Regions from separate parts of the Homo sapiens genome. Here regions 2, 3 and 4 are each linked to region 1. The links come from fine-mapping of genetic effects on gene expression. A gene starts in region 1. Each other region holds a variant in brackets. All regions are shown on one strand. Distances are from middle to middle.

Region 1 (8,310 bases):
AGGCAGGAGAATTGCTTGAACCTGGGAGGTGGAGGTTGCAGTGAGCAGAGATTGTGCCAGTGCACTCCAGCCTGGGAGACAAGAACAAAACTCCATCTCAGAAAAAAAAAAAAAGAAAGAAAGAAACTAGACCCATATACAAAAATCAAATCAAAGTTAATTAAAGACAATATAAGATGTGAAACTACTAGAAGAAAACATTGGGGAAATGCTTTGGGACATTGCTCTGGGCAAAAAATTTTGTGGAAGATCTCAAAAACACAGGAAACAAAAGCAAAAATAGACCAGTGAGATTACATTAAGCGAAAAAGCTTCTCCACAGCAAAGGAAACTCAACAAAGTGAAGAGACAACCCACAGAATGGGAGAAAAATATTTGTAAACTATCTGTCTGACAAGGGATTAATAACCATATTATTATAAGAAGCTCAGATAACTGAACAGCAAAAAAAAAAATCTGATTTTAAAAGGGCAAATGATCTGAATGGACATTTCTCAAAAGCAGACATACAAATGGCCAACAAGTATAAGAAAAAATGCTCAACATCACTAATCTTCATAGAAATGCAAATCAAAACCATGAGATATCATCTCACCACAGCTAGAATGGCTTTTACCAAAAGATAGGGAATAAGGAATGCAGGTGAGGATGTAAAGAAACGTACACTGTTGATGTACATTTCATACATTGTTGGTGGGAATGTAAATTAGTACAGCCACTATGGAGAACAGTATGGAGGTTCCTCAAAAAACTAAAAATAGAAATACCATATGATTCAGCAATTTCACTACTCTGTGTATATACAAAAGAAAGGAAATCAATATATCAAAGAGACATCTGCACTCCCACATTTACTGCAGTACTATTCACAATAGCCCAAATTTGGAATCAGGCTAAGTGCCCATCAATAGATGAATGGATAAAGAAAATGTGGTACATATACATAATGAAATATTGTTCAGCCATAAAAAAAGAATGGAATTCTGTCATTTCTGCAGCAACATGGGTGGAATGGTCATTATGTTAATGAAATAAGCCAAGCACAGAAAGACAATTATCACGTGTTTTCACTCATATGTCAGAGAGTAAAAAAAAAAAAAGTGAATCTCATGAAGATAAGGAGTACATTGTTGGTAACCAGAGTCCAGGAAGAGTAGGGGTAGGGGTGAGGAAAATGAAGAGAGGTTGATTAATGGGTACAAATATACAGTTGGATAGAAGAAATAAGACCTGGTTCAATAGCTCAGTAGAATGACTATAGGTACATTTCAAAACCACTAGCCAATAATAATTTGAATGTTCCTTTTTTTTTTTTTTTTTTTTTTGAGATAGGGTCTGGCTCTGTCGCCCAGGCTGGAGTGCAGTGGCACGATCTGGGCTCACTGCACCTTCCACCTCCCAGGCTCCGGGCTCAAGCAATCCTCCCACCTCAGCCTCCCACGTAGCTGGGACTACAGGTATGTGCCACTGCACCCAGCTATTTTTTGTAAAGATGGGGTTTCACCATGTTGCCCAGGCTGGTCTCCAACTCCTGAGCTCAAGCGATCCTCCCATCTCGGCCTCCTAAAGTGCTAGGATTATAGGCATGAGCCACTGTGCCTAGCCCAAGATAAATTATTTAAGGCGATAGATATCCCAATTTGATAATGTGTCAAATTATCATATGTACCCCCAAAACATGTGCATCTATTATGTATCAATAAAAGATTTTTTAGGCCAAGAGTGGTGGCTCACGCCTGTAATCCCAGCACTTTGGGAGGCTGAGGCAGGCGGATCACTTGAGGTTAGAAGTTCGAGATCAGCCTGGCCAACATGGTGAAACCCTATCTCTACGAAAAATACAAAAATTAGCCAGGTGTGATAGTGCCCGCCTGTAATCTGAGCTGTTCAGGAGGCTGAGGCAGGAGAATCGCTTGAATCGGGGAGGTGGAGGTTGCAGTGAGCTGAGATCGTGCCACTACACTCCAGCCTGGGTGGCAAAGCGAGACTCTGTCTCAAAAAAAAATTTTTTTTTAAAGAAATAACTTAATTTGAGGGCTCAGTATCTTATGGTAATAATACCAAACTCCTACATTTTGTGCTTGAGAAAAGAAATAAACATTAAGAAATTACTATTCAGAAAAAGGTTATATTTGGTATACAGCAAAACAGAACCAGAAATACTAATACTATCCACTGACTCACTACTCATCAATCCAATTGTCCGACATACCCTTATTAGCATCTACCAAGTTCCAGGTACTCTTGAGGTAGAAAAATAAAGAACATTTGTTCTTCTCTTTAAAGAACTTGAAACATGGTCATGAAGAGTGGTGAATTGAAATTACATAAATAGGTTCTGTAATAGTTTCTTTTAAAAAAAAATCAATAATGCTGATGATGGCTAACATTATCAAAGTTACCAAATCTAAAAACCAGTGCTCAGCGGGACATGGTGGCCTATAATCACAGCACTTTGGAAGGCTGAGGTAGGCAGATCATCTGAGGTCAGGAGTTCAAGACCAGCCTGGGCAACATGATGAAACCCCATCTCTTCAAAAAATACAAAAGTTAGCTGGGCGTAGTGGCACGTGCCTGTAGTCCCGCTACTTGGGAGGCTAAGGCGGGAGGATTGCTTGAACCTGGGAGGCGGAGGTTGCTGTGAGTTGAGATCACGCCATTGCACTCCAGCCTGGGCATCAAGAGCGGAAACTCTATCTCAAACAAACAAACAAATAAATAAATAAAAATCAGTGCTCAATCCTTACCTTGCTCCACAAGAAATTGACAGAGTTGATCCTTCCTTTATTCGTTACTTGCTCTGTCTATAACTCCTCCTCCTGGTTTTCCTCCTATGATCAGTCCTCTAGCCTCTGCTATACTGTCACCACATTCACCCCCTGGGTGTTCTCATTCAGCCATCTGGCTTTAAGCATCACCTCTACACTGATGGCTCCCAATTTTCTGACTACACCCAAGCTTCTCTCTACAACTCCAAAACAGTTTATCCTATTGCCTTCTTGATTAACAAGCATCTTACAGTTATCATTACCAATCTGTATTCCAGACACACATAGCTTAAACCTGCACCTTCCTCAGGGTTTCCCAGTCCAGTAGAGTTTACCTTGGAGTAACCCCTAAAGCCAACCCTGGAGTAATCCCTAATCCCTTTTCTTCTTTCCCCCCAATTTCTAATCCATCATCAAATCTGTGGACTCTTACTTTCAAAACATGTCTTGAATCTAATAACTTCTCCTCTCTTCCCTTCTAGGATATCACCTGACCTGAACTCTGAAGTAGTCTCTGCTAACTGGCTTTCTGCTTCCATTTTTGTCCTATTATTTTTCACACAGCAGCCAGATGAATCTTTAAAAACTGAAGTCAGATCATGGCTCTTCTCTATTCAAAACCTTCCAACTGCTTCTTTTCATCCTCTGCCCTCAGGTGTGATCACGACTCATTCCCTCATTTCCCATGTCCCCTCAGCTCTCTGCACAAATATCACTTCATCAGAGAGATCTTCCCTAATATCATCTCAAATACCAGTGCCTTCCGCCTCCACCCTCTGGTTCCTGTTGTATTTTTCGTTGCCCCTTGATATTACACTATGTGTTTATCTGTTTATGTTCTCTTTCCCTCAGGAGAATGTAAACGCATCAAGAGGATCTTGTCTTTCACTAATTGTATTTTCAGGCGGGGCCCAGAGGCTCACGCCTGTAATCCCTGCACTTTGGAAAGCTGAGGGGTGGATCACTTGAGGTCAGGAGTTCGAGACCAGCCTGGCCAACATGGTGAAACCCCATCTTTACTAAAAATACAAAAATTAAGTCGGGCGTCGTGGCGCATGCCTGTAATCCCACCTACTCGGGAGGCCGAGGCAAGAGAATCAGCTTGAACCCGTGAGGTGGAGGTTGCAGTGAGCCGAGATGGTGCCACTGCACTCCAGCCTGAGCAGCAGAGCGACACTCCATCTCAAACAAACAAACAAACAAACAAACAAAAAACAAACATATTTTCAATGCCAAAAAAGGTCTGGAATGAGGTGGGCACTCAGATGCTTTATTAACCACTCTAGGTATTATTCTAACACTTTATGTGCCTATTAAATTATCCCGACATATTAGATTTGCTGAATTGCAGTCCATATTTCGTAGATATGATAGCTGAAGCACGGAATCATTAGGTAACTTGCCCAAAGTGGCATTCACGACTCATAAATGGCTTAGGATGTAAACTCAGTTTTATTCCCTGGGACGCCCTCTCTGCTCTTCAGCACTTGAAGTTCAGGCAGCGAGAGTTGACATGGGGCCAGGGCTGCGCCCCTGGGGCGGGTTGAAGACAGGGTGAGTCTCTTGATATTCAGGAAATCATCGCGCACCCAGTCACCAGCGTTCGGGAGCCTGTCGCAGCGGGACCGACGGAATCCGGAGCAGGCGACAGGGCGCAGAAGCGGGATGTACTTCTGTTGGGGCGCCGACTCCAGGGAGCTGCAGCGCCGGAGGACGGCGGGCAGCCCCGGGGCTGAGCTACTGCAGGCGGCCAGCGGGGAGCGCCACTCTCTGCTGCTGCTGACCAACCACAGGGTCCTCTCGTGCGGAGACAACAGCAGGGGTCAGCTGGGCCGCAGGGGCGCGCAGCGCGGGGAGCTGCCAGGTGAGCGGGGGGCCCCAGGTGCAGGGTGTGAGGACCCCAGTACATGGGCGCGGGGGCTTGGGTACCGGGCGCAGGGAACCGGGTGCGGAGCGCTGGGACCCGGGTGAGGGGCGCGGGGGCCCAGGTGCAGGGAGCGGCTCAGATGCTGGGCGCCGCGGGCCAGGCAGGGAGGGGTGCTGGGAGCCTTGGATTCCTCGGGGCCCGAAGAGCCACAGGAACCAGGAAAATGGTGCCCTGTGCTACCGAAGAGCAACTTCCTCAGTTTCGTTTTCCCAACGCCCCTCGGATTTGTTTCGGTTTCCAATTCAAGTTCAAAGCGAAACTGAGAGCCGAAACTAACCTGGTCAGCGCTGCTCTGGAAAGAGATGTGGTCCCTCCGGCTTGCCTTGCAGATAAATCCTCGCCTGCGCGGTTCTACCTGGAGAAGGCAGCCTGACCTTACAAACGTGGTTTGTGGGTCAGACACCTGTATCTCCCTTAGAAATACACTGGGGCATTAAAAAATATATATATATAAAAATATATATATAAAATATATAAATATATATAATATATAAATATATACAAATATATAATATATAAATATATAATATATAAATATATATAATATATAAATATATAAATATATAACATATAAATATATATAATATATAAATATATATATAACATATAAATATATATAATATATAAATATATATATAACATATAAATATATATAATATATAAATATATATATAGCATATAAATATATATAATATATAAATATATATATAATATATAAATATATATAATATATAAATATATATAATATATAAATATATATATAATATATAAATATATATAATATATAAATATATATAATATATAAATATATATATAATATATAAATATATATAATATATAAATATATATAATATATAAATATATATATAATATATAAATATATATAATATATAAATATATATAATATATAAATATATATATAATATATAAATATATATAATATATAAATATATATAATATATAAATATATATAATATATAAATATATATATAATATATAAATATATATATAATATAAATATATATATAATATATAAATATATAATATATAAATATATATAATATATAAATATATAATATATAAATATATATAATATATAAATATATAATATATAAATATATATATAATATATAAATATATATATAATATATAAATATATATATAATATAAATATATATATAATATATAAATATATATATATAATATATAAATATATATATATAATATATAAATATATATATATACACATAATAGGCCGGACGCGGTGGCTTACGCCTGTGATCCCAGCACTTTGGGAGGCCGAGGCGGGCGGAGCACGAGGTCAGGAAATCGAGACCACCCTGGCCAATATGATGAAACCCCATCTCTACTAAAATACAAAAAATAAACTGGGCGTGGTGGCGGGCGCCTGTAGTCCCAGCTACTTGGGAGGCTGAGGCAGGGGAATCGCTTGAACCCGGGAGGCAGAGGTTGCAGTGAGCCGAAATCGCGACACTGCACTCCAGCCTGGCAACAGAGCAAGACTCTGTCTCAAAAAACATAATAATAATAAATATATATATTATATATGTGAGATAATACAATAATCGTTATGGATTATTGTAGAAATACGAGAAAGCAATCACCGTAGCTCCAACACCCAAAGATAACTCCTAACATTTTGATGCATTTTCTCCTTGTCTACTTTTTTCTATGTACATATTTAATCTTTATAAAAATCATGTCATTATAGATTTGTATATGCAGTATTTATGCAACTCTGTACATTGTGTTTTCATCAAGCATAATCTTATGAACATATTACCCTTTCATTTTGTATGTTTTGAAAATATGTTTTAAATTGCTGCATAACATTCTAAACTCTGAGAGTACCATAATTATTCTCTTTTTGTGGAAATTAGATTGTTTCCCACTAGGGGCTTTTATAAATAATACTGATTGATATTCTCGTAAGCAAATATTTGACTACATTTTTGATGACCTGCTGAGAATAGTTTCAAAAGGTGTGTGGAGGAGGAAAATTTTTCCTCTACCCTCTTAGGTTCAGCGGCTGGGTCCTGCAAACTTAACTGACAAAAGACAGATTGACAGGAGAAAAAGCATACAATTTTATTAATCTTTTACATATAGGGGAATTTACATGCGTGGGAATTTACAGAATAGAAGTGAAACTCAAGTGCTTCGACTTAGGAGCTTGTGTACCATGTTTAACAAAGAAAAGGGGGTTTGGACTTTAAAGGATGATGAACTCAGGGAAAGTGACTAGAAAATATATGGGAAAATCTAATGGAAGATAAGGGTTATTTTAATTGACTTGTTTATGCAGGCTCACCTCAGTGCCAAGTCTTCATCTTAGGTGACCCTTCTCTTCTTTTTTTTTTTTTTTTTTTTTTGAGATGGGGTTTTGCCCTGTCACCAGGCTGTAGTGCAATGGCACTATCTCGGCTCACTGCAACCTCCGCCTCCCCAGTTCAAACGGTTCTTCTGCCTCAGCCTCCCAAGTAGCAGGGATTACAGGCACTCACCACCATGCCCAGCTAATTTTTATATTTTTAGTAGAGACGGGGTTTCACTATGTTGGTCAGGCTGGTCTCAAACTCCTGACCTCGTGATCCACCCGCCTCGGCCTCCCAAAGTGCTGGGATTACAGTTATGAGCCACTGCGCCCGGCTGACCCTTTTCTTGGTGCCAGAGATGGGAGCTTCTCACAAAAGGATATTTATGACCTACTTTTAGGTAGATAAGAAGAGAGCAGAGACCTCTTCCTGCATCTGTTGATTCTCAATTGCCTTCAGCTCAAATTCTTAAAGTAGCATGTTTTCAGGTCTTATCACCCTCATTTGGAAATGAAGGGCAACATGATACTTAACCCCAAATTGTTCTCTAGAAAAATGGTACCAATTTCTATCTTTGTGAGTGCATGAATCTTTGGGAAATTTTAACCTTGCATAAATTGACAGTAAATAGTTGAAAAAGATAAGATTACAAAGATAAAAGGAAAAACAAAATCTTAAATGTTGCAAAAACTTTACTGGTATGATGTTCTCAACTCCAAACCTCTAATAATTCAGAGACAGACACCTTGGGAAAGCAGTTTAGGTTGGCTTGTAGGGAAATGTGATCCGGTTTTCATTTGTGGGCATATTTAGGGCCTCCATAGGGGCATATTTTTCACTTTTCATTGTAAGAGGATCCAGCATCTGCCTCTCACACTCATGAGGTAGGCTCCCTTCCAATTTCCTTCTGAGCAAGGGATTCACTGCTTTCAGTGTTTAGGGTGGGAAGACAGAATAGCAAAATGGAGGAGATCCCAACTTTTTTCTGGGTCTCTTTATTTTGCTAGGTTTTGCTAGAGAAACATTTGGTCATGTGTCATAGTCCCTAGAAGTTACCCCCTCCGTGATGCCTACTCCTTTAAATAACAGCCATTAAAAGATAGACTTGGGTAATTGAATGTTTTTAAGAGTCAATTTGAACATTCAGCAGTTCATGAATTGAGCAGCACCAGACCTCAAGCAGTTGGGCTCCACTAAGGGAGGTGCAAGGAGATGCCAGGGGGAACCTTTGATAACGTGTTCCAGGAAGCAAGACAAAGAAAATACTTGATTGGTTAAA
Region 2 (8,310 bases), 290 kb after region 1:
GTCAATAAAACAAAATACAAAAGGCACTGACTCTGTGGAGGATAATCAGTTTTTGTCCATAAGTAATAGAGTTTTAAGTATTTATTTCCCCTAGAAACTAGTATTGAATAGTGTTATTCAATAGTATCCAACTTTAATTTTCCTGTGAAATTTAACATGAAATTTAGTTTTCTCTTGTAAATATAGTATCTGATATATGTAACTGATTTTTATTATTGTAATCAACACCTTGGGCCTGGAAAACAACACACTGATGAGAAGGAAGTGAAGTAGCATACTATTAGAGAGGCAGGGCAGGTTAAAGTTTAAACAACTGGAAAGAGGGATAGGTATGCATGAAAAGTGTAAGATCACAAAGAAAAAGGAAAGTAAACATTACTTAAGAAGATGTTGCTCTTTCTTTTGAAACTGAAACCTATGCACATTTACTTAAACTATTAACCAGAGATGATTATTTAGATACAGAGGCTGATCAAATCATATGCTTACCCTGTTACCATATCACTTAAAGAACCAAGAAAAAGCACCTGTATAGTTACAGCCTCTATTTTTTTTTTTTTGAGATGGAGTCTTGCTTTGTCGCCCAGGCTGGGGTACAATGGCGTGATCCCGGCTCACTGCAACCTCCACCTCCTGGTTTCAAGCGATTCTCCTGCCTCAGCCTTCTGAGTAGCTGGGATTACAGGCGTCCGCTACCATGCCTGGGTAATTTTTTTTGTATTTTTAGTAGAGACCAGTTTCACCATGTTGGCCAGGCTGGTTTTGAACTCCTGACCTCAAGTGATCTACCCTCCTCGGCCTCCCAAAGTGCTAGGATTACAGGCGTGATCCACCACGCCCGGCCATAGCCTCTATTTTTATAAAAGGCTGACTCATTCATTACTGCCAGGCCTTAGGTGAAAGAAGGGAGGGAAGGAGTTATATTCAGATACCCCTTTGCTACACTGATTCTAGGTCTTGGGAATTTAGTGAATGTAAACCATAGCATCTCCTTTTCCTGTCGTTTTGTTCCCTGGATAGAATTGAAGAGGGAATGTGGTTGGGATTGTTAGAATTGTGTGTGCATGTGTGTGTGTTTGTGTGTGTGTCTATCTCATAATCTTCTTTTTCCTGGAACAGTGATTCTTAACCTTGGCTGCCTACTGGAATCACCTGGGAGCTCTACAAAATACTGATGACTCTAGAGATTCTGATTTAATTGGTCTGGAGTATGACTTGGTCATCAGGATTATTGAACGCTCCCATGGTGATTCAAAGTCCAGCCAAAGTTGAGAAACACTGACCTAAGAGCAATTTTTCCTTTTTTGCCTGTATGTATTAAAGACAGGAAGAATGATGTTTTTTCTTGGTTCTTTAAGTGATTCTGAACTTGTACTTCACCCAAGGCATCTCTGGTTTATTGGACATATGATGAGGAATGATAAAATAGTTCCAAGTCTTTATTTTATTGTAGGTTTGTGTTAGAGTTGATGTTCAGCTGCCCCTTTGAATGGGGGAAATAAATAAAATTTACGTAACAACAGTGGTTTTACAAGGAGGTGGAAAGACAATCTCTGTGTGTACTCCAGCATCTGCTTTGGATTATGAGTTTCCTGTATGTTGTACTTCAAGATGATTTTTGTTCTCTCAATAGATATCTGTGGCCATTTTAGTAGAATAGTTATCAATAACCAGATGATCACAAACTTTGTCAGGCATCTCTGTTTTATTACATGCTCTACTCCTTCCTACCATAATGATACGTTAACTTGAAGCTATGGGAAAGTAACCAAGAAAATTTACTTTGAAAGTTATGTTTTTATGTGTAGGTACAAAGGAGAAAAAAAATCTCATGAGCTGATGAATGAGTGCTTTAATATTACCTTTTTCCTCTTCACTGGAGACGAGAATAGGAGTATAAAGCACCATCAACCTTTCCTTAGTTCTCGATCAAGAACAAGGCTTGGGGAAAATAAGTTGAAAACAAGCAATTTTAGAAAAGGAAAGTGCTTATTATGTTTTTTTTCTTTAATCTCACTGAATAAAAGATGTACAGTGTTGGGCAACATTTGGAATTTTCAAGGACATACATTATTAACATCTTTTTCTGCCATTTTTCTTATAATAGCTATATACTTGAAGCAAGAAATTAAGAGTCATTGTTTTTATAGGTTATTTGTCATATAGATTATAACTGAACTCTGGCTCTTTTGTAATACATTTTGTTGAAGTTTGGTGGACATTTATGGCAGATGACTAATACCTTAAAAACCTGCTGTTACAGTGATTCAAAGCAAAGGGGAAAGAAGTCTGGGAAAGTTGTACTGAGTTGGTTTCTCTGGGAAACAGACCCGAGACTCAAAGGTTTTTGGGAGAGTGCTTTCTAGAAGAACATCTACTGAGGGATGAAGGAGGCAGGATTGCGCAGAGGGAGGGGTTGAAATGCAATTCAGTTATAACAGAGGCCTCAGCCAGTCCCATGAGGAGCACTGAAGTTGTGATGGTCCTTCAGCCAGTCCTGAGTTGAGGCAAGCGGGCTGGACCTTTACACCATGCCTCTACCTGCCATTGGATGTGATAGTGAAGCAACAGTCAATGCCAAGTCCTGGACAGCAACCCAGCTGGGATCTGTCAGGAGCCTCCATTCTGAAGGGTGGAGGGGATCTGGGCGGCACACTGCAGCATTTAGATCATAAGTGAAACGTAAAATGGAGAATATGTGGGAGAAAGGAGAGGAGACAAGATCCATGCTACATAATTTCTTCTTTTTACTGTTACATTTAATTCTCCAGAATTATTCTCCTGCTGTTGACTTCAGGACTATGAACCAAGCACATTATACCAGTTTAATAAATGATGAAACCATAGCAGTTTGGAGACAAAAACTCTCAGAACACAACAATGCAAATACAATCAAGTATGTGGCTGCTTGTCTTCATTTTTTTTTCCACAAAGTATGTTACAACTTTTTAGCTTAGTGTGATTTTCCGTACTTGCATATTGATACTGTGAATGTAAATGGGGTTTTACATTATAGGGAATCGTGGGTTATTTTTGGTTACTATTTCAGGGTTGATCTCCTTAGCCCCAAATAGCATAATGGATGGATCCCCAATTCTCACACACAGTATATGCCTCAACCTGCCTTGTTTATTGTATGATCTTAAAAATCCTGACTGATGAAGGCCTGAGTTGGTGATTCTGCTAAGAGAGCTTAGCGTTATGGTTAACTCCCATGGGTTTTAGTGTATGCATGTTCCAAAACATCCCAAATCTGAGACAGCTGTTATCTTACCTAATCTTAATAATTTCTAGCATTTTCCTATTCATAATGATTGAGATGGTAATTCAGAGTCATGTAGAAAAAAAAAAAAACAACAGTAAGTAGGATTGAGAGCTTTTATCAAATTTAAAGGACAATTTTCCTTTGCACATTTTTACACATTTTCATTGGCTTTCCTCAGCCTCTCCACTTTTTTCTGCAAAGTCTGATTCTTGGGAAGAATAAATCAAGCTCTGTGCACTAAGTTGTGGTTATTCCCAGAAACGTACATAATGGTTCCTGCATTATGACATAGATTGTAGTGGGCCAAATGACCAGGACGCTACACTTTGAGGCACTTGAGCTAGTAACGTTGTGAGTGAGAGAGCATTAGAAACGCCCTAGAGCAGCTCTGTGGCAGTCTTCAGAATCCCTCTAACCTTAGGATGG[C/T]TCTGCCAAGGAGCTCAGGCTGAAGGGTCGCAGGGGAGAGGAGATGAGGGCTTGCTGGGGTCCAGCAAGGGAAATGGTGACACTTTACCATTAGTTCTCTGTTTTCTTATTTATAAAATGAATGGATGGAAGACATGATCTTTAAAGATCTTTCCTGATCTAAATTCTGTGATTAACAGAAACTACTGTAATCCCCTCCCCAGCTGTATATTTGTGTTATTCTTTCCCTTTTCCTTACACTGAATGGAAAGGCCCAGGGTTCCTGATGTCCAGTTTCATTTTGGGCCCTCAGAATTAGCTGTTTCCTCAGAGCCTGTATAATAGAAGGTAATGGGAATAAGCACTTGTTTCACTATTTTTTAATTTATGTCTCAGATATGCAGCAAAATAGAAGTAATTTTTCAGTTATTAATTTGCCAAGATAATTTCTGTGTTCGGGAAGTAACAGCTTGGCTTCTCTTTTTTGGTTTTATTCTGTGTTTCTCTTTGGAGTTTAGATAGGGCACTTCTTAGATGGTTGGTGGTAGAAAAATATTCAAGAACATTATTGGGACAAGAGGTTTTCTTTCAGGAGCTTTGATATTCTTTTTTTTCCCCTAACATGGGAAACTTAAGTTCTTCTTCATTTTGAGATGTGACATCCTGTTTTTCTAAAGCAAATGTACATTTTCCAAAGCTTCAGCTGACAAAGAGCTGCTATTAATGAAATCCTTGAGTAGATGGTTACTTTATTATTGATGCTTAAATAACCATTTATTTGTAATTATTAAAGGCTTCCCCCTCCCTTCTTTTCTTTGAGCAGTGGTGTTGTTCAGATATTATCTTCTGCAGCCTGTTGGAATGGAAGTTTTCTTGAAAAAAAGTAAGTGACTTAGAGCCTTAAAAAACCCTCACGTGTACCTGTAGTCTCAAGCTATTTGGAAGGCTGACACAGGAGGATTGCTTGAGTTTAGGAGTTTGGGGCTTTAGGATGCTGTGATCATGCCTGTGAATAGCCACTGAATTCCAGCCTGGACAACATAGTGAGGCCCCATCTTTTTAAAAAAAGTTTCTTAAAACCCCACATGTGATGCAAATACTTACTCAGCAAAGGCTGTGAAAGACTTTTCTTCTCTTTGATGGTGGTTGGCCTTAATTTAATGAGTAAGCTGATGCTTTGCGCAAAAATTGGAAAGCCTAATAATGGTAATGAGAGGATTTCAGGAAGAGCAATGCTGATTCATACCTGGATGGCAGAAAAGCAGATTACCGAGAGAGACTGTATCTCAGAAATAATTGGTAGAATCATCAGTAAGATTTTCAGAGTATTCTAAGATGTGTCATAATTCTAAATTCTTAATTCCTCAGATAATTTTCTTGATTTCTTTGGTTTGCTTTCCCACAGTTTTAAAATTTTTATTATTTTTTATTTTTTTCTCTCAAAAGGAGTGAATTTCAGGGAGTAATTCTAAGGAGGCTTCAGGGGCTCCTTGGATTTAGGTCCAGCCCAGCTCACCAGAGAATTATATTTGAGGTTGAACTCCCCAGTAGTAAATAGAATGTTTATTTGCTTAGCCTTATCCCTTCTGCAAATATCTCCCTCAGGAACCTGATGCAGCAAAAGAGTCTTGTCATGGGTTTGGATCTTTGGTAATCCCAAGTCCTAATTATTTCTCAGTCCTTTCTGCCAGTGACCAGGCTATATGAGATCTCAAGATGAATTAGACTTCATTTCTGTGTGTGAATCCCACCCCTACCCCTCGAGCCCTGTGTTACTCAAGGTTCTTCAGAGAAATGGAACAAATAGGAGAGAGATAAATAGATAGATGGATGTATCTAGAGAGAGGGAGAGGAAGAGAGGGGATTTACTACGGGAATTGGTTCACCTGATTATGGAGGTTGAGAGATCCTGCCATAGGCATCTGTAATCTGGAGAACCAGGCGAGCCAGCATCATAGCTTAGTATAAGTCCAAAGGCCTGAGAACCAGGGAAGCTGATGGTGTAACTCTCAGTCTGAGGCTGAAGGCCTGAGAAATGGGTGGGGGCTGCTGGTGTAAGTATTGGAGTGCAAAGACCACAGAACCTGGAGTTCTGATGTACAAGGGCAGGAGAAGAAGGATGTCCTAGTTCCAGAAGAGAGAAATAATTTGTCTTTGCTCTGCCTTTTTGTTCTGGGCTTTCAGCTGACTGGGCGGTGCCTACCCACACTGAATGAGGATGGATTTTCTTTACTTAGTCACTAATTCAAATGCCAATCTCTTACAGAAAACTGACCCAGACATACCCAGAAATAATACTTTACCAGCTATCTGGGTATTCCTTAATCTAGTCATGTTGACTCCTAAATTCAACCATCACCACCCCCTCCCCACAAATGAGTCCCTAACTGGGTTGCAGGAGGTCACTTCAGAAACTCTCTTTGGTTACATTTAGAGATTATAAAGTCATTTACTTTTATAATTAAGGCAGCTGGGATGAGCTCACACAATTCATTTCATATTTAGTAATTAGTTTTTTCCTCTAGGGAAAGATATTCTGGATTATGCTGATGTTGGCCTTCCAGAACAGGGGTTCTCAACCAGGGTGATTTTGCTCCCCAAAGGACATTTGGCAATTTCTGGTAACATTTTTGGTTGGTACAATGGGGAGGGACTTGCTATTGGCATCCAGTGGGTAGAACCCAGCGATGCTGCTAAACATCCTTCATTCCCACCTGCCCAGCAAAGAATCCTCTGGTCCCAAAAGTCAATAGTACCAAGGTTGAGAAACCCCGTTCTAGATGGATAGCTTTCATGACATTTGGGAAGGGCTCTTGGCCAGACTTGTTAGGTTGTTCATCCTTAGTATCACAGATTTCGTATAGAGTTGTGGGGAAAGCCTTTTATTTTTTTTCAAACTGACATCTGTGTATTTCAGAAAGTCTACTCCTGTAGCGTACATAGGATGCATCTCAGGAAACCAATCAAAATGAAGACCAGATTTACAAAGCAATAAATACGTATAGATAAAACATTTTGTTTTTGTTTTCTCAACAGCATAGCAAAAAGCATATGGAAAATTACATATGGGAAACCAGAATTCATTTCTATATTTTGGGCAGATTTATTTTAAAAACAATAACAACAACAACGAAAGACCCAAAAAACAAAGTACAAGCAATTTATCTTCATTTGAGCATAGGGTTCCGATACATATAATTATGATTTTTAAAAAATGTTAGAAACTCTTATGTTTTCAAAAATTATAACATTGCTGTCAGAGTGTATTAAAATCATCTGAATGTGTCCATTACTCAAAAACAGAAGCCTGCTTTGCAAATAGATAGCTCTTTTGTAAATTAACAAATGTGGTATGTTCAAGAGCAGGATATATGAGATATTCTCTAAGTCTCAAAAATGCTAAGATTTTATTTAAGGTTAAAAAAATGATTTAGTTGCTAGAAAGTTAAAAATAGTGGCAATGAAATTAGTCCTTGGGTGAATGTAATTGTATCCTTTGTGTTAACGATGAGAGACATTAACTTTGCATTTACTATAGATCATTTTTATTTTAAATACTTTGGTAAGAAAGGCTTTCAACAAGGAAGTTCTACTGTCATTTGTTGATGAGTGGACCAGTTTGCACAGGGGACGTTATTTGTACCAAGCCACAGCATCTACATCTAGTTCAATGAGCCACAAAAACAGAAAAAAACCAAAAAACACAAGATGAAATCAGGGAAATAATTATTTGTTTATAAACTTCAAGATAGCCTTAACTTGATATGACAGTCCTTGTACTTTGACTTGAAGGAAAACAGATTTAAAAATTTGAAAATTCTTGTAAAAGGAATTCCAGTGTGGTTTATTCTTTGTGAAAGAATAATATTCTGTATTTTGGGTTTATTATTTTGAGATTTATGCAAAGTGTAGTATTTTTGTGGATCTTATCTGCCAGATCAAATTTAAATCTGATTACTAAGAACACAGTATTTTACTTGTTTATAATTCCTATCAGAGTGTTTGCTTTTTCTTTTATTATATACCTTTTTGATTTTGTTTGTTTAGAATTGATGAACATTTTAAAACGAGTCCCAAAATCCCTGGGATTGACCTGAACTCAACTAGGGTGTTATTTGAGAAGTTAATGAACTCTCAGCACTCCATGATTCTAGAACAGGTATGTTTCTATATTTGTAAAGTGCATTCTTAAAAATGCATTTTTGTATCGATGAATTCAACTTCAAGAGAAAAAGAGTAAGATGAAAAAGTGAAAGTCTCCAAATCTTAATTTTGTAAAGTATTTACTCTGGGAATTAGACCTACCTTTTGCTTTCTTTTGGCTTAAACCTTTCCAAGGCAATGCCCCTCTAGAATATACAGTTTGCACTGGCAGGGATCTTTGGCTTTTCTTTTCATGGATGTGTACTGAGGGCCTAGACCAGTGTCAGGCTCATAGTAGGTTCTCAGTGCATAGTGAATGAATGAGAGTTGAGAGTCTATCAAATAGCTTATGAACTTAGAGAAAGTTAACTAGATCTCAAGTATGTTTGAATTTCTCATTACTCTTTTCCCTCATACAGATTTTGAACAGTTTTGAAAGTTGTCTGATTCCCCAGTTGTCAAGCTCACCACCAGATGTTGAAGCCATGAGAATCTAT
Region 3 (8,310 bases), 120 kb after region 1:
GCTGAGGCAGGTGGATAGATTGAGCTCAGGAGGTCGAAGCTGCAGTGAGCCGTGATCATACCACTGCACTCCAGCCTGGGCGACAGTAGAAGACCCTGTCTCAATTAAAAAAAAAGAATAAGAACAGTAATATGATTCTAGTATTATTATCATCCCTCTTTTACAGATTCAGAAACTAAAACACAGAAAGATTAGGTAACTTGCTCAAGGCCCCATAATGGCAGAACGATGATCTGAACACAGTCTGGCTCCAGAGTCTATTAATCGTTTATACTAACTGTACTAATAAGACAAGGAAAAAAAAATCAAAAGCACAAGATTTAGAAAGAAGGAGATAAATTTGTCATTATTATTTTACTGGAAACATCGAAGATAACCTAAATAATAATTATGCCTCAAAAGACTGATAATTAACAATGTACATGAACTAAAAGATCTTTAAATTTGTATCATTGTTTCTCAAACTTTTAGGTCTTAAGATTCTCTTAAAAATATTGAGGACTCCAAAGCGCTTTTAGTTAGGTTGGTTACATCTGTCAATATTTACGGGATTAGAAATTAAATATTTTAAACACAGGAATACACAAATATCTGTTAGCAGAGCATTCCACAATATCATATAGCCTCATGAAAACTCTTCTGTTTACTCACAGCAGAATGTGAAAATAGGCAAATAACATCTTAATAATGTTATGAAAATAGTTTTGACCTCATGAACTCTGTAAAGGCCCAAGGATTCCCAAGAATTGCTGGTCTGGCTCACATTTTGAGAACCAGTGATCTCTGTGTTCAGTAAAACTCAATTTTAATCCCAGGAGGCTTTTTATTAAACTTCACAACCTGGTTCTAAAATTTATATGGATGAACAAAGGGTCAAGAATAGCCAGAAATAATTCTTAAGGCAAATAAGGATGGAGAACTTGGTCTGTCAGCTATCAAGAATTATTAGAAAGCTGTATTAGTCAGGACAGTATGATGTATGATATTGGTGCAGGTTTTCCGATAGAACAGACGATAGAGCTCAGAAATGGACCCATGCCTATGTGGAACTTTATTAGAGGTGACATATTTGATCAAGGGGAATAGCAGTACTACTCAATAAATGGAACTGGAAAAAAATGATATCTATCTGGGGAAAAAAATGAAAGTAGATCTTTGTCTTATGCCATACATGATAATCACCTCCATGTGGATGAAGGATTTAGATATTAAATGCAAAAATCATGAAAATACAGGAGAATGATCTTTCTCACCTTTGAGATTTCTTAAACAAGACATGCAGTGTACCAACAGTAAAGAAAAGATTTAATACATTTAATTGCAATAAGATTAAAGAACTTCTTTCTTCATCAAGAGGGTGTTAGAAAAATGCAAAAGGGAAGGTGTTGTCAGGGTCTGAATGTGTCCCCCACAAAATTCATATTTTGAAGCCTCATCCCCAGTGTGGAGCCCTCATGAGTAGAATTCATTCCCCTATGAAAGAGGCCCAAGGGAGCCTGTTCGCCCCTTCCACCATGAGAGGACACAGAGGACACCATTGAAAAGGAATGGGTCGTCACCTATTCCCTTTAGATTCAGACACCGAATCTGCTGGCACTTTGATCTTGTACTTCCAAGCCTCCAGAACCGTGAGCAATAAATTTCTATTTATAGATTACCCAGTCTAAGGTATTTTGTTATGGCAGCGTAAATGGACTAAGGGAAATTGCTACCAAGAAGTGTGGTGTTGGAAGCAACTTTGGAACTAGGTAATTAGTAAGTAGTGGAAGAGTTTTGAGGCACATGCTAGAAAAATCATGTATTGCCCTATAGAGCAGTTCTGGCAAGGGCTCAGAAGAAGAGGAGACCTCTAGAGAAAGCCTTGGTCTTCTTAGAGATTACCTAAGTGGTCATGATCAGAATGTTAGTAGAAACGTAGACAATAAAGGCAATTCTGATGAGGTCTCAGATGGAAGTGAGGAACACATTGGAAATTGGAGGAGAGGTGCTCCTTGTTACTATATAAAGTGGCAGAGAATGTGGCTGAATTCTGTTGTATCCTAGTGTTTTGTGGAAAGTCAGATTCTTAACAATGAAATAGGATATTTGGCAGAAGCAATCTCTAAGCAAAGTGGTAAAGGAACAATATGGCTTTTCTTGACTGCTTATACCAAAATGCAAGCAGGGAGAATTATTTAAAGTGGAATTTATCATTAGAAAAAAAGCCAAACTTAAAGATTTGGAAATTCTCAGGCTGGCCATGTTGTAAAGAATGCAAACGTGTTTGGAAGAGAGCACCAAGGGTATGGCCAGGTGACTCTTTTTATTAATAAAGAGGTTAGTGTGGATGGGTGGAAGCCTGGTGCTATTCATCACGACAATGGAAGAATGATCCCAAAGGCATTTCAGAGATCACTGGGGGCTGTCACTCCCATCATAGGCCCTGAGTGCCAAGGCCTGGAGGACAGAACTATGTCAAGAGTGGCTTTGTGTGCCCACAGGACCTGGACATTTGATGTCCAGCGCTGCCTCAAGTCCCTACTCATTGCATTCTGGCACAGTGCTCCTCAGCTGACCCAGGTGTGACTCCAGTGGCCCCAGGTGTGGTGTGGTCACAGTGGCTGTGCCATCTCTGCTGGCACAGAGTGCACAAGCTGTGGGGCCTTGGCTTCTCCCACCTAGATATCAAAGGATACTCCACAGAGCCATGGGGTCCAGGCAGAGAACTGGCACAGGGTTGAGGCAACTGCAGAGAGCCCCCACTAAGGCAATGCCTAGTGGAGTCATGGGAGTGAGGCTGCTCTAGAGACCCGAGAAGAGCCACCAGTGTGCAGTTCCAGCCTGAGGGAGAATCAAAAGCACCCAACACTAATGTGTGAGAGCCTCTAGGGGTGGGCTTTGCCCAGCAAAGTCATGGGTGTAGGGCTGCCTGGAAACTTAGGAGCCCAACCCCAAACCCAGTGTGTCCTGAAAGTGGGACATTGAGTCAAAGATTATTCTCAAGCCTTAAGATTTAATGTTGCATGCCATTTTGAGTTTTGGACTTAGTTGGGACCTATTACCCCTTTCTTATTTCTGTTATTCCCTTTTGAAATGGGAATGTCTATCCTATGCCTGTTCCACTGTTGTATTTTATTTAATTTATTTATTTTGAGACAGAGTCTCACTCTGTGGCCCAGGCTGGAGTGCAGTGGTGCAATCTGGGCTCACTGCAACCTCCACCTCCCAGGTTCAAGCGATTCTCGTCCCTCAGCCTCCTGAGTAACTGGAATTACTGGCACATGCCACCATGCCTGGCTAATTTTTGTATTTTTAGTAAAGATGAGGTTTTGTCATGTTGGCCAGGCTGGTCTCAAACTCTTGACCTCAAGTGATCCACCCGCCTCGGCCTCCCAAATTGCTGGGATTACAGGCGTGAGCCACTGTACCTGGCCTACCATTGTATTTTAGAAGCAGGTAACTTGTTCGATTTCACAGGATCACAGCTGGAGAACAGTTCACCGCCTTCCCCACAAAAACAAAAACAACCCACAATGAATAAAACATGGTCTGTTACTTCACAATACAGTAATTTAAAAACCCAGTGGGGAAAAAAAATCAGTTCAGATTCCACCTTATCCCAGAGGCCTTTCCCAATGTCATGTATCCCTTCAGAAAAATTTAACTGTGCTCTTTTAAGCCTATACCTGTGTGATTTCCATAGTTCTCTGGCTGCACATACCTCACTGTATTGTAGGTGAGACTCCCATCAGCATACCTCACCTTCAAGTCCCAGAGTATTGGCAGTGATATCTTAGTCTCAACTTTACATCCCCTATGCCTGCTATAGTAGGGGCTACTTAAATGTTTGTTAAATAAATATTTGAGTGAATGAGCAAATACAATGAGATGTGTTATTTCAAAAGCATGTATAAAGCATCATAGGATGATAGGATGGAAATAATTTAAAAATTGGTTACTGTCCATTTTGATGTGACCTCTATTCTCACAAATGCCCTGAAATTATTAAGGTAGTCTAATTTCAGGTGTTTCTTAAGCTTGATGATATTGGGACAAGAGGTGCAGAGAAGGTCCTTTGACCCACCTCAGAGTTACTGATACCTGAAATTTAATATGAGACCTATTCTGTAAGTAAAGTTCAAAAGCTTCAATAAAGGTAACACCAGTTTGAATGAATTCACTATCAGTGAACGTTAGAATCCTTTTCTAAATAGAAACCTACAATCATTAGGTAGGGAATTTAAGGTAAAGGAACAAGAGCTGTGAAGCAGGCAGGCAGCCTGCAGAAATGCAGACAAGCTTCTTAAATTTGACATGTTTAGTTGAGGTCTGGCCCTGTTTAGACTATCAGTACGCAGAGAAAGAGGTGCTGTGAACTATACCTGACCTCATACCTTCAGAATAGCTATACACTTGACATTTATTTTAGATGCTGTGTCTAGTGATCATGGTTATTACCTTTTTAAAAGCAAGATTATTTTTTCCTTAGGAATTTGCAAACACTTCTGGATGATGAAGGTGATAACTTTGAGGAAGTATTTTACATCCATTTTAATGTGAGTAACAATAAAAGCAGATAACAGATTAGTTTTAATCTGATTAACCCTTTACATATTTAACTAAACATGTCAACTTTTACT[TA/T]AAAAAAAAACCTGAATAAATTAGTGAAAAAGGTATTGTTCTTCATCATGATCTAGGTGCATCAGTTAGATTTTACTATGTAACAGCCAACCCTAAAACCTAGTGCCCTAAAAGAACAAATACAATTTTGTGGGTTTCTGAACTGGGCCGACTTGGCCAGGCTGGATGGTCTACAGTGGTATCACTCACATGCCCAGTCACTGGCAGGCTGGTTGGGTTATAGGGTATCAGCTGGAACAGCTTGTCTCTGTTCCCTGTGGTCTTTCATTCTCCAATAGGCTAGCTGAGGCTTTTGAAGCAAGACTGCAGTCTTTATTCTTCACATGGTGGCCTTAGGGTTACAGAGAGGAAGCGATAGCAAGCCCCACCACACATGCTTCTGCTTCTGTCAGATCCCATTGGCTAAATAAAGTACCTCACATGGCCATGCCGAGATTCAGTGGCTGAAGAGATAGCCTCTCCCCTTGATTGCAAGTGTTGCAAAGCCACTAGGCAAAGGGGCAGGAGAACTAGGATGGGAAGAATTCATGGCCATTTTTGTAAATCTACCATACTGGGTCTATGCTGTATGAAGTGAATACTGAGATGTAGCAATTTTCCAATTAATTTGTTTAATTTGATCAGTTAAAATAAGAGAATTCAAGCTTTGAAAAAATTTATTTTTATTCAGTATGATAGGGTGTAATTTTTTGTTTGTACATTCCTTGCTAGCTTTTATGACAAAAATGTACATTTTAACACATTCTTTTTAGAAAGTATGCTCCAAAGTGTTTTTATTGATGATAGATTGTTCAGAATTATGTTGGAGATATTATCTGAGTTCATTTGCGGTTACAGGTGCACTGGGACAGAAACGACACAAACTTAATTCCTAATGGAAGTAGCATAACTGTCAACCAGACTAACAAGTAGGTACAAAAAATGAAATAGTTGGTTTGTATATGTACTATTTTTATTTTACTGAGCTCTAAAAATTCCTTTTAGCTCTTTAATTTTTCATTCTCATTAATCATTTTTCACTAAGGCAGAGAAGTTGGTGTGTGTTGTATGTGTTTTGACATATATATCATGGAGTTTATATTGTGGTAAGGAATGGAAATGGCTTTCTCAGAGAGACCTTTCTATTTCCTCCTGTCCAAAATTACAACACCAACATCTGTCCCTCTTTATCCACTCGTTCTGCTTTTTCTTTTCATATCACACATTACCTACCTTTAGGGTTTATTTGCTTATTTATTTCTCATTGTTTCTCCAATGATAGTGAATGCGGCAGGGACTTGGTATGTATTCTTCACCGCTGTATATTCAGTACCTAGAGTAGTCTACAGTGGTGCCTGATACATTGCAGGCACATAGTAAGTATTTGTTGAAAAGGTTACTATGATATTTTGACTTCCCAACATCTAATGGAATGCCATTTAAAGCCATGGAGTTTGGAATTATAGAACCTTCCCTTGATAGTTGGTCAGAGTGGCAAAGAGATCTCTAGGAAGCGTGCTGGCCTACATCACATCTTTTTCCACGATTTCTTAATCTTTTTTTTTAAACTTTGTATTGAAGTATAACCTATATAACAGAATTTTGCACAAGTCATAAATGTACAGTTTAGTGAATTTCACAAAGCAAACATGCCTATGTAATTACTGCCAGATCAAGAAATATAACATTTCCAGCTATATAGTTGTGTATTGTATGAATATATCACAGTTTATTTATCTGTAGAATTTTTTTTTTCTTTTGAGATGGCACCTCGCTCTGTCACCCAGGCTGGAGTGCAGTGGCGCAATCTTGGCTCACTGCAACCTCCGCCTCCCGGGTTCAAGCGATTCTCCTGCCTCAGCCTCCTGAGTAGCTGGGACTACAGGCGCCCGCCACCACGCCCAACTAATTTTTTGTATTTTTAGTAGAGACAGGGTTTCACCGTGTTAGCCAGGATGGTCTCCATCTCCTGACCTCATGATCCACCCACCTTGGCCTCCCAAAGTGCTGGGATTACAGGCGTGAGCCACTGCGCCCGGCCTATCTGTAGTATTTTTGACCGACATAGTGTATTTCAAGTTTTGGACTATTATGAATAATGCTCTTGTGAACATTCTTGTACATGTGTTTTGTTTATGTGCAGGCATTTCTGTTGGTATGTAACTGGGAGAAGTGCTTGGTGCCTTGTGGTTGCCCCTTGCTCCATGCAGGCAGAATCAATGCTCCTACCTGAAATTCATTTGGATATTGATATGGATGATGCCATATGTAAGCCAGAGAGTATGAAAATGTTTAGTACATAATGGGGCTTTTTGGGGAGAGCTGCACAGGCATCCAAGCTGATCTGTTTGGCTTAAGTGAAGAGAGAGGCAGGTGGCTTTAGTTTTTATGGTGGTTCCGTGGGGCCAGGGTCAGGGTTCTCATGCAACCCAGAGCATGCGTGGGGAAATTTAAGCCACGCAGCCATCAGTGGGTGCCCAGGGAGTGAGCCTGTGTTGTGCAGATTTGGAGGCGAAAGGGGAAAAAGGAGGAGTGGGACTTGAAAGCTGTTAGTAAGCAAACATAAAAAATGGAGGCACACTTTCATCAGTAGGGTACGACAGTTCTAATTGCTCTATATCCACTCTAATAGTATTACTAGTCTTTTTTAAATTAGCCATTCTGGTGGGTATATAGTAGTATTCCATTGTGGTTTTAATTTGCATTTCTCTGATTACTAATGTTAAGCACTTTATATGCTTATTGGCTGTTTGGATATCCTCTTTTCAGAAATAATTATTCCTCATCTTTAGTCTATTTTTCTGTTGCTTTTTTTTTTCTTGTCAGTTTATGAGAGTTCTAGATGCAAGTCTTTTGTTGGTTATATGTACTGCAGATATCTTCTTACATACTGTGGCTTGTCTTTTCACTTTTTAAATGTGTCTTTTGATTAACCAAAATTTGTAATTGTAATGTAGTCTACTTTATCAATATTTTCCTTAATGCATAGTGTTTTTCTGTTTTCTATTTTATGAATACTTCCCTATCCTAGGGCTATGAATATATTCCCCTGTATTTTCTTCTAGAAGCTTATCATTTTATTTCTCACATTTAGATCTATGATCCACTTTAATTGATTTTTTAGTAAGATGCAAGGTATGGATCAGGTTTTATTTTTTCAATTTTTGAAACTGATTATACTGAACCTATAGATCAATTTTTTGAAAAAATTGACATCTTAAAATAATGAGGCTTTAATCCATGAATACAGAATCTCCATTTGTTTAAATCGTCTTTTGTCATTCTTGAAAAAATGTTAGGTAGTTTTCTATGTAGAGATCTTGTTGCAATATTCTAAATAGGTTTCTTGGATCATTTATTGTATTTGAATCTTCTCTGTCCTTAAAAATTTTTTTGTCTGCTTTTCTGTTAGTTACTAGGAGAGGTATATTAGCATCTATACTATACATGTGGATATGAGTGTTTCTTTAAGTTTCGTTATTACTAAGCACATAACAGATTTTTGAATTGTTTTACCTTCCTGGTATATGACTCGGTTGTCATTAGTAAATGTACTTTTCTATCCTTGTCTTGTTTGTCTGATTTTAGTATAGTTACACCACATTCATTTTGGTTGATGTTTGCATAGTGTATCTTTTTCCCTTCTTTGACTTTAATCTGTGTTTTCACATTTAAGTTATATATGTTATAAGCAGCATATGATGGAGTTGT
Region 4 (8,310 bases), 72 kb after region 1:
CCCTGGGTAACTCTGGATGTCATGGGCACCAAAATTAATTCACAGGCCAAGCAGCAGCTTCACTTGGAATGGCTGAATTCTATAGGATACAAATCCCAAATTTCGGGCACATAGCAAAGCCCCTTTACAAGGCAACAAGGGGACCTTAAGATGAGCCAATGGAATGAACCCTAGAAATGAGGGAGACTTTCACCAAGTTAAAACGGGCTCTCAGCCAGGCTCGTGCACTCAGCATTCCAAACCTCACCAAGCCCTTCCTGTATGTAGCAGAAAAGAAAGGCATAGCTGTGGGAGTGCTTACTCAGAAGTTGAGAACAGAGCCTAGGCCCATTGCATACTTTTCTTTTTTTTGAGATGGAGTCTTGTTCTGTCTCCCAGGCTGGAGTACACTGGCACAATCTTGGTTCACTGCAACCTCCAGCTCCTGGATTCAAGTCATTCTCCTGCCTCAGACTCCCAACTAGCTGGGATTACAGGTGCCTGTCACCACCATGCCCCAGCAGATTTTTGTATTTTAATAGAGACCGGGTTTCACCATGTTGGCCAGGGTGGTCTTGAATTCCTGATCTCAAGCAATCCACCCACCTTGGCCTCCCAAAATGTTGGAATTACAGGCGTGCGTTACTGTGCCCAGTTGTTGCATACTTTTCAAAGAAATAAGACAGTAGCCACCAGGTGGCCCAGCTGCCTGCAGGCAATAGCAGCCACTGCTATTTTGGTTGAAGAAGCTATTAAAATTACTATAGGCTGGCCAGGTGTGGTGGCTCATGCCTGTAATCCCACCACTTTGGGAGGCCAAGGTGGGCGGATCACCTGAGGTCGGGAGTTGGAGACCAGCCTGACCAACATGGAGAAACCCTGTCTCTACTAAAAATACAAAATTAGCCGGGGGTGCTGGCACATGCCTGTAATACCAGCTACTTGGGAGGATGAGGCAGGAGAATTGCTTGAACCCGGGAGGCGGAGGTTATGGTGAGCCCAGATCGCACCATTGCACTCCAGCCTGGGCAACAAGAGCAAAACTCCGCCTCAAAAATAAACAAATAAATAAATAAACAAAAATTACTCTAGACCAGCCACAACTCCCCACCAGTCCTAGAAATAAAAGGACATATCTGGATGACAGGAGAAAGATTAAATACGAGGTGGCACTCCTAGATAATCCAGAGATCACAATTAAGACCTGTAACACCTTAAACCCAGCTCTATTAGTCTGTTCTCATGCTGCTAGTAAAGACATACCTGAGACTGGGTAATTTATAAAGGAAAGAGGTTTAACTGACTCACAGTTCCACATGACTGGGGAGGCCTCACAATCATGGCTAGTGGAAGGCAAAGGAGAAGCAAAGTAATGTCTTACATGGCAGCAGGCAAGACAGTGTGTGCTGGGGAACTCTCCTTTATAAAACCATCAGATCTAGTGAGACTGATTCACTATCATGAGAACAGCACGGGAAAGACCCACCCCCATGATTCAATTACCTCCCACTGGGTTGTGGCAGGCCAATTCTCCCTGACAATCACACAGACAGGCCTGTATAGCACTCCAGTTACACTGACAGATTTCCACAGCACTGCCTTAACATTTAGCAAATAGTTAAGCCTAGGGAAACTGGTGCCCAGACATCAAAGCTAGAAATGAAACATATGTCATATGGTCAGTAGGTTTCTCCCTAACCCGGAGCAAGTCAAAATAATAGAGACAGTCTTACATTCCTAGTGCTAGGACCCATCTCGGGTTGACGGAATCTGAGACAGTTCAAGGTAATGGTGGCAGCTGTGTGAATAGATTCATTAGAGAGTCTAAGGCAGCTCTCTGGACCAAGCTGCAAAGGAGATAAGATAGAAATAATCACTCTGGTACCACAGTAGACAGGCCTTGAAGGTTCTGGGGCCCTTTTAATCAAACTTAGCAAGCATTTTTTGCTTCTGTCCTTCTAGTTGAAACAAAATTAGCTACAAATAGACTTAGGTGAATGCTATACTGCACGTAGGCACATAACCCCAACCTATACATGCACTAAGAAAATTGTAACACTTTGGGTTGGTCTGGTGGAATTATCTCTGGCCTTCTCCCTGTATCCAGTTATATCAATAAATTCCATTCTTTCCTAGTTTGTCTGCTTCTCCTTATTGGGCCTTGAGAAAACGCAGCCAGACCCAGCTTGGTTCTGGGAACAGGGTCCCTCCCATGACACATGGAAATTATGGGAGCTACAGTTCAAGATGAGATATGGGTGGGGACACAGCCAAACCATATCATCAGCTGCACTGCTACCTATGGGCACCATAACCAATCATTCCTGTGAGCAAATCATTGTACACAGATATGGGAGCCAGCCTCTTTTATCTTTTAGAACAGCCTCTTCCAGACCCTGTGGATAACTGGTTTATAGACGGCAGCAGCTTTGTGCTAAACAGGGAGCACCAAGCTGGATATGCAATAGTGAATTACACCATTTTTGAAGTCCAGCTACTGCCCCCAGGCACATTGACACAAAGGCTGAGATCATTGTTCTTACTCAAGCATTAAGGTTGGGACAAGAGGCTGGCGCAGTGGCTCACGCCTGCAATCCCAGCACTTTGGGAGGCCGAGGCAAGTGGATCACCTGAGGTCAGGAGTTCAAGACCAGCCTGACCAATATGGTGAAACCCCGTCTCTACTAGAAATACAAAAATTAGCCGGGCATGGTGGTGTGTGCCTGTAGTCCCAGCTACTTGGGAGGCTGAGGCAGGAGAATTGCTTGAACCTGGGAGGTGGAGGTTTCAGTGAGCTGAGATCGTACCACCACTGCACTCCAGCCTGGGCGACAGAGCAAAACTCTGTCTCAAAATAAATAAATAAATAAATAAAGGTTGGGACAAGGAAAGAAAGCTAACATCTATGCAGATTCTAAATATGCATTTCTTGTGGTTCATGCTAATGCTGCAATTTGGAAAGGAGACTACTTACTAGCAAGCACTCCCCCATAAAACATGGGATTCTTCAGCTATTGCAGACAACATTTGCCAGAGGCCATAGCCATTATTCATTGCAAAGGGCAACAAAAGAATCTAACTCCTATAGCACAAGGGAACAAAAAGGAATCCAAGGCAGCAGCCCTCAAGGTACAGTCTCAACAAGTTTTAGCACTACTCCTTTTTTATGACCCCCCAATAGAACCTGAGTACACCTCACAGGAAGAACATCTAATAAGACAACAAGGAGGAATGAAACAGGGATCTTGGTGGTATAAGGGATCAAAAATAAATCTTCCCCAAGCAGCCCAATGGAAAATCATAAAAGCCCTGCATAACTCTTTCCATGTGGGAAGAGACACAACTTTGGCCATGGCAAACAAGCTCTTCACTGGATCCAACCTAGCTTCCATGGCCAAACAGGTCTGTCAAGCCTGCTCACTGTGTGCATTAAACAACCCAGGAAACAAAGTGCCTCCTTTAACAGAGCCAATCCAAAGAGGGAGAACTTACCCAGGGTAAGACTGGCAATTGGACTTTACCCATATGCCAGCCTGTAAAGGATTCAAGTTTTTACTAGTACTGATAGAAACCTTTATTAGCTGGGTTGAAGCTTACCCTTCCAGAACAGAAAAGGCCAATGAAGTAGTGAAAATTCTCTTAAAAGAAATAATCTGGCTAGGGACGATGTCTCACACCTGTAATCCCAATACCTTGGAAAGCTGAGGCAGGCAGATCACTGAGCCAGAAGTTCAAGCCCAGCCTGGGCAACATGGCGAAACCCTGTCTCTACGAAAAAAAAAAAAAAAAATTATCTGGGCACGATGGTGCATGCCTGTAATCCCAGCTACTCAGGAGGCTGCGGCACAGGAATCATTTGAAACAAGGAGGTGGGGCTGCAGTGAGCCAAGCACACTGCACTCCAGCCTGGGCAACAGAGTGAGGCTCTGCCTCAAAAAAAAAAAAAAAAGAAAGAAAGAAAGAAAGAGAAATAATCCCTTGGTTTGGGCTACCCCAGAGCCTTCAAAATAACAGCTTATCTTTTGTCTCCCAAATAACTCAAGGGGTTGCTAAGGCCCTCAGGATCAAATTTACATTCAGCATGGAGGCCTCCATCCTCCAGGAAAGTAGAAAAGGCTAATCAAACTCTAAAATGGGCATTAGTTAAACTGTGCCAGGAGATGTCAGAGACTTGGGTTGACTTGCTCCCCACATCCCTCTTAAGGATCCGTAATTCCCCTCAAGCAAAAATTAATCTAAGCCCATATGAAATATTATATGCAAGGCCATCTTTAACTAATGATCTAATCACTGATCCAGAAACAACCAGTTTAGTAAAATACCTAATTAACCTGGGACAATTTCAGCAGGATTTACAAAAGTTTGGAACCCAGTGGTTCCCTGTACTGGGAACTAACCAGCAACCCAAAATTAGGCCAGGAGGTAAGGTACCGGTGAAAACATGGAAAGAGGAATCATCTGCTCAACAGCTACAACCCAAATGGAAGGAACCATTTTCAGTGGTGCTGGCCACACCTTCCATGGTCAAGGTACTAGGGTTAGATAATTGGATACATCTTTCCAGCATCAAGCCTGCCATACCAGAAGTTCCCGGACCCCGAACGTGGAACTCCCACCAGCCACTATACCTGTGAACCTGTGGAAGACCTGAAATACCTGTTTAAAAGAATGGCTAAAAGATAAGTAAAGGCCTACTAACTTTCCTTGGTGTCTTTTCTGTGTGTTCGTGGTAGTTGGGGTAATACTAGTTTTTCTTACATTATTAAACTGCCTTTTCCCAAGCAGGTAGGATC[AT/A]TTCCTCTGCCCTAGTAGAATCCTATCCTGTAGGACTTAAAGGAAGCAAAATAACAAAAAGGTACATTCATACCCACAATGATTTGCTATAGGCCACACACACTGGGATCATGCATATTGGGAATTGGCTTAATTCTACAGCAGGGCCTTGATTTACCCTCTGACCATTAGGTGACCCTCAGTATTTACTAAGAACCTTGAATCTAACACAAAGACTGTTAAACACCACCAGCCAAGCCTTGTTTTTTTGTTTTTGTTTTTTGGGTATTTTTTAGTAGAGACAGGCTTTCACCATGTTGGCCAGGCTGGTCTTGAACTCCTGACCTCAAGTGATCTGCTCGCCTAGGCCTCCCAAAGTGCTGGGATTAGAGGCATGAGCCACTGTGCCTGGCTGCCAGCCTAGCCTTAGTAAAAACATTGTTGGCTTTGCTTATCCCCATACTCCTCCAGGTACACTGCTATCCCAGTCCCAGCACGATATTGGGCCCTTGAAAAAATGACTTATCACCCTGCCTACAAAGGAGGAACTCTCTTCAAACTAATAAACTTAGATGACTTATACAACCAAATTACAGACATGACAAAGGTTACAATGACAGGACGAGCAGTAAACCTCCTGCAGTCCTATCAGAGCAACCTCTCTAGGGTTACATCCTCAGAAAAGCCCATCTAGGGCCCAATATCAACACACACAGAGCTAGAATTCCAGGTACACTCTGTGTCAAAAGGAGCCAAAAGTCCAGTCAGGTCCTGGGGACCTTGAAGAGTAATCAGTGCAACTACACTCTGGAGATTAATCCCTCACACAATCATGTAAATTACACAACTACCCAAACTACATGATTTAGAAAACCTGTATGGTTTTCACGGAAACCATTCCTAGTTAAGGGCATCTTAAAACATATTCGGTCTAAGTACTGTTAAGGGAAGCCCCCTAGCTGTGTCCACACTTTTCCTTGGGAAGACTGCATTAGCCCTGAAATTCACCTCTAGCTGTCTTTTGGTTCTCCATTATGAAAATACTCCCAGGTGGTTGTTGGTGGACGCCAAGAGCAGCTACCTCCACTGGGAAAATAAAACCACTGGGGCAACCCAACTTTGCAAGGCCCCTTCCCGTCGTCAACAGGGGCCACCTTAGCAGGGACCTTAACTACTTGGGAAAGCAAAAATAACAAACTAACCCATATGTTCACCATAGAAAACAATTTCTGTCTTGAAAAACGGGGAGCATTTTTCCTGTGCAGGACCAGCTCCTACTTACGTTTACCTGCCAATTGGACTGGAACTTGTATACTTGTTTATTTAGCCCCTGAAATTAATATAGCTCCCGATAACCAATCTCTCACTGTATCTTTGACTGCAACCACCAGACACAAGCAAGCCATCCAACTCATACCCCTTTTAGTAGAGCTGGGAGTAACAGCAGGAATAGGAACAGGAGTTAACGGGCTGGCAACTTCCCTATCCTACTACCAGGGCTTGTCCATTGATTTCATGGAAATCTTGGATGACATTGCTCAAAGTATTGTCATCAGACAAAATCAAATAGGCTCCCTGGCAGTGGTCACTTTGCAAAATAGAAGGGGACTAGACCTCATAACCACTGAGAAGGGAGGCTTATGTCTTTTCCTAGAGGAAGAATGCTGTTTCTATGTCAACCAATCAGGAATAGTAAGGGATGCCACCTGAAAACTAGCTGACCAGGCCGCTAAGATACAACAGCTGTCGGAATCATGGGGCTCCTGGTCAAGGTGCTGGGCTGGGTGTCATGGTTCCATCCCCTAGCCAGACCGTTGCTAATGGTTATACTGGCCCTGGTCTTTGGCCCATGTTTGCTAAACCTTTTAACCAAGTTCATTTTCTCTTGCCTAGAAACCATTTAGCTTCAGATGATTGTGCGACAAGGTTTCCAGCCAGTGCCAGGTAAAGGCACCACCTCTGGCCGTCAAAAGGTTACTCTGTCTCCACAAGACAAAGCAGGGCGAGAGTTCTGTGGTCCCCAGCAGGTAAGGCCAGCGTGCTAAATCAGCAGGAAGCAGTTACAAAAGAAAAGACCATCAGTCCCTCTGCCTCCCATAAAGATTTCTAGGGATCATGTCTCTCAGGGGGAAAATGAGGCAGGAGAATAGGATCCAGAGATAGGGAATCTAAGGATAACTTGGACAGACTCCCTGGAGCTGAAGAGTCTGCACACTGACCTATGATTGGTCCATTCCAGGACCTTCATTTGCATAAGGTGCCAAACCACATCAGGCTCTGATTGGCCACAGGCCGGTACCTGCACTCTGGCCAGTGATTGGTCTATTCCAGGCCCTTCATTTGCATAAGGCACCAAAACACACCAGTCTTGGATTGGCCATGGGCCAATTCACCTTGGCGTGGAATTGGTCACAAGCCAGTCCTTCATTTACATAGGATGTAACCCACAAGAAACCTCTAAAGGGTACTGAAGCCCCAGAAGACTTTGCTACCAGGGCTCTTGAATCACTTGCTTGAGCCCGCTCCCACCCTGTGGAATGTACTTTTGCCTTTGATCCTTCACTGTCTTCCACTTTCTTTTTTTTTTGAGAGGGAGTCTGGCTCTGTTGCCCAGGTTGGAGTGCCGTGGCGCGATCTCGGCTCACTGAAAGCTCCGCCTCCTGGGTTCACGCCATTCTCCTGCCTCAGCCTCCCAAGTAGCTGGGACTACAGGCGCCCGCCACCACACCCAGCTAATTTTTTTGTATTTTTAGTAGAGACGGGGTTTCACCGCGTTAGCCAGGATGGTCTCGATGTCCTGACCTCGTGATCCGCCCGTCTCGGCCTCCCAAAGTGCTGGGATTACAGGTGTGAGCCACTGCGCCCGGCCCACTATCTTCCACTTTCATAAATTCACTCCTTCACCGCTTGTTCATGTGTGTTGTTCAATTCTTTGTTCAATGTGCCAAGACCTGGACACCTCACCATCAGAACACTTAACCCAGAAACGAGATGAATGTGTTCATTCTTTTTTTTTTGAGTTCGATTGCACAGTGTGGTAAATATAATTAACAATACAGTATTGCACTTTTCAAAATACCGAAGAGATAAAATTTCAAATGTTTTCACCACAAAAATTGTTAAGTATTTGAGGTGATGGATGTGGGAACTAGCTTGATTTAATTATTCCACATTGTTATTCATAAATTATAAGATCACTTTGTTCCCCATAAATGTATACAATTATAAATTGCCAATTTACAATTTAAAAAAAGAGAATTAGTTGAAAAATGTTTGGATAAATAATAAAGTGATGAATCAAGAATAATTTTTTTTTAAGAGACGAGGTCTCACTATGTTGCCCAGGCTGGTCTTGAAATCCTGGGCTTAAGAAATTCTCCTGCCTTGCCTCCCAAGTGCTGGGATTACAGGTGTGAGCCAAGAATAATATTTTTAATAAAACAATGTTATGTAAAGCAACATTTCCTATATCCCTAACCTTGCTAGATATATATTTTATATTCAGGAATATCTCTAGAGTTTTTATTTTAGCAAAGTGCTGAATAATTTATTTGAAAA

What was found.
Region 2: its variant is fine-mapped to the expression of HERC6 in fibroblasts (GTEx, PIP above 0.99).
Region 3: its variant is fine-mapped to the expression of HERC6 in whole blood (TOPMed, PIP above 0.99).
Region 4: its variant is fine-mapped to the expression of HERC6 in whole blood (TOPMed, PIP above 0.99).

What each region holds. Positions count from the first base shown.
Region 1 is chr4:88,374,489-88,382,798 of GRCh38, forward strand. HERC6 (HECT and RLD domain containing E3 ubiquitin protein ligase family member 6) reads left to right here and starts at 4,364. Exons shown (of 23, transcript NM_017912.4): 1 at 4,364-4,632. The coding sequence starts at 4,434. RefSeq lists a silencer at 4,587-4,776 and enhancers at 4,787-5,116, 8,193-8,310.
Region 2 is chr4:88,659,660-88,667,969 of GRCh38, forward strand. It overlaps HERC3 (HECT and RLD domain containing E3 ubiquitin protein ligase 3), which reads left to right. Exons shown (of 26, transcript NM_014606.3): 11 at 2,772-2,896; 12 at 4,494-4,553; 13 at 7,718-7,829; 14 at 8,233-8,310. Among named protein-coding and RNA genes, the nearest start is that of NAP1L5, 34 kb to the right of the region's middle. RefSeq lists an enhancer at 4,316-5,515. The variant C/T (reference allele first, on the strand shown) is at 3,692.
Region 3 is chr4:88,495,458-88,503,767 of GRCh38, forward strand. HERC5 (HECT and RLD domain containing E3 ubiquitin protein ligase 5) reads left to right here. Exons shown (of 23, transcript NM_016323.4): 19 at 4,469-4,535; 20 at 5,458-5,528. Among named protein-coding and RNA genes, the nearest start is that of PIGY, 24 kb to the right of the region's middle. The variant TA/T (reference allele first, on the strand shown) is at 4,620.
Region 4 is chr4:88,446,077-88,454,386 of GRCh38, forward strand. All of the region lies in intron 1 of LOC102723458 (a long non-coding RNA gene), which reads right to left. Among named protein-coding and RNA genes, the nearest start is that of HERC5, 6.9 kb to the right of the region's middle. The variant AT/A (reference allele first, on the strand shown) is at 4,773.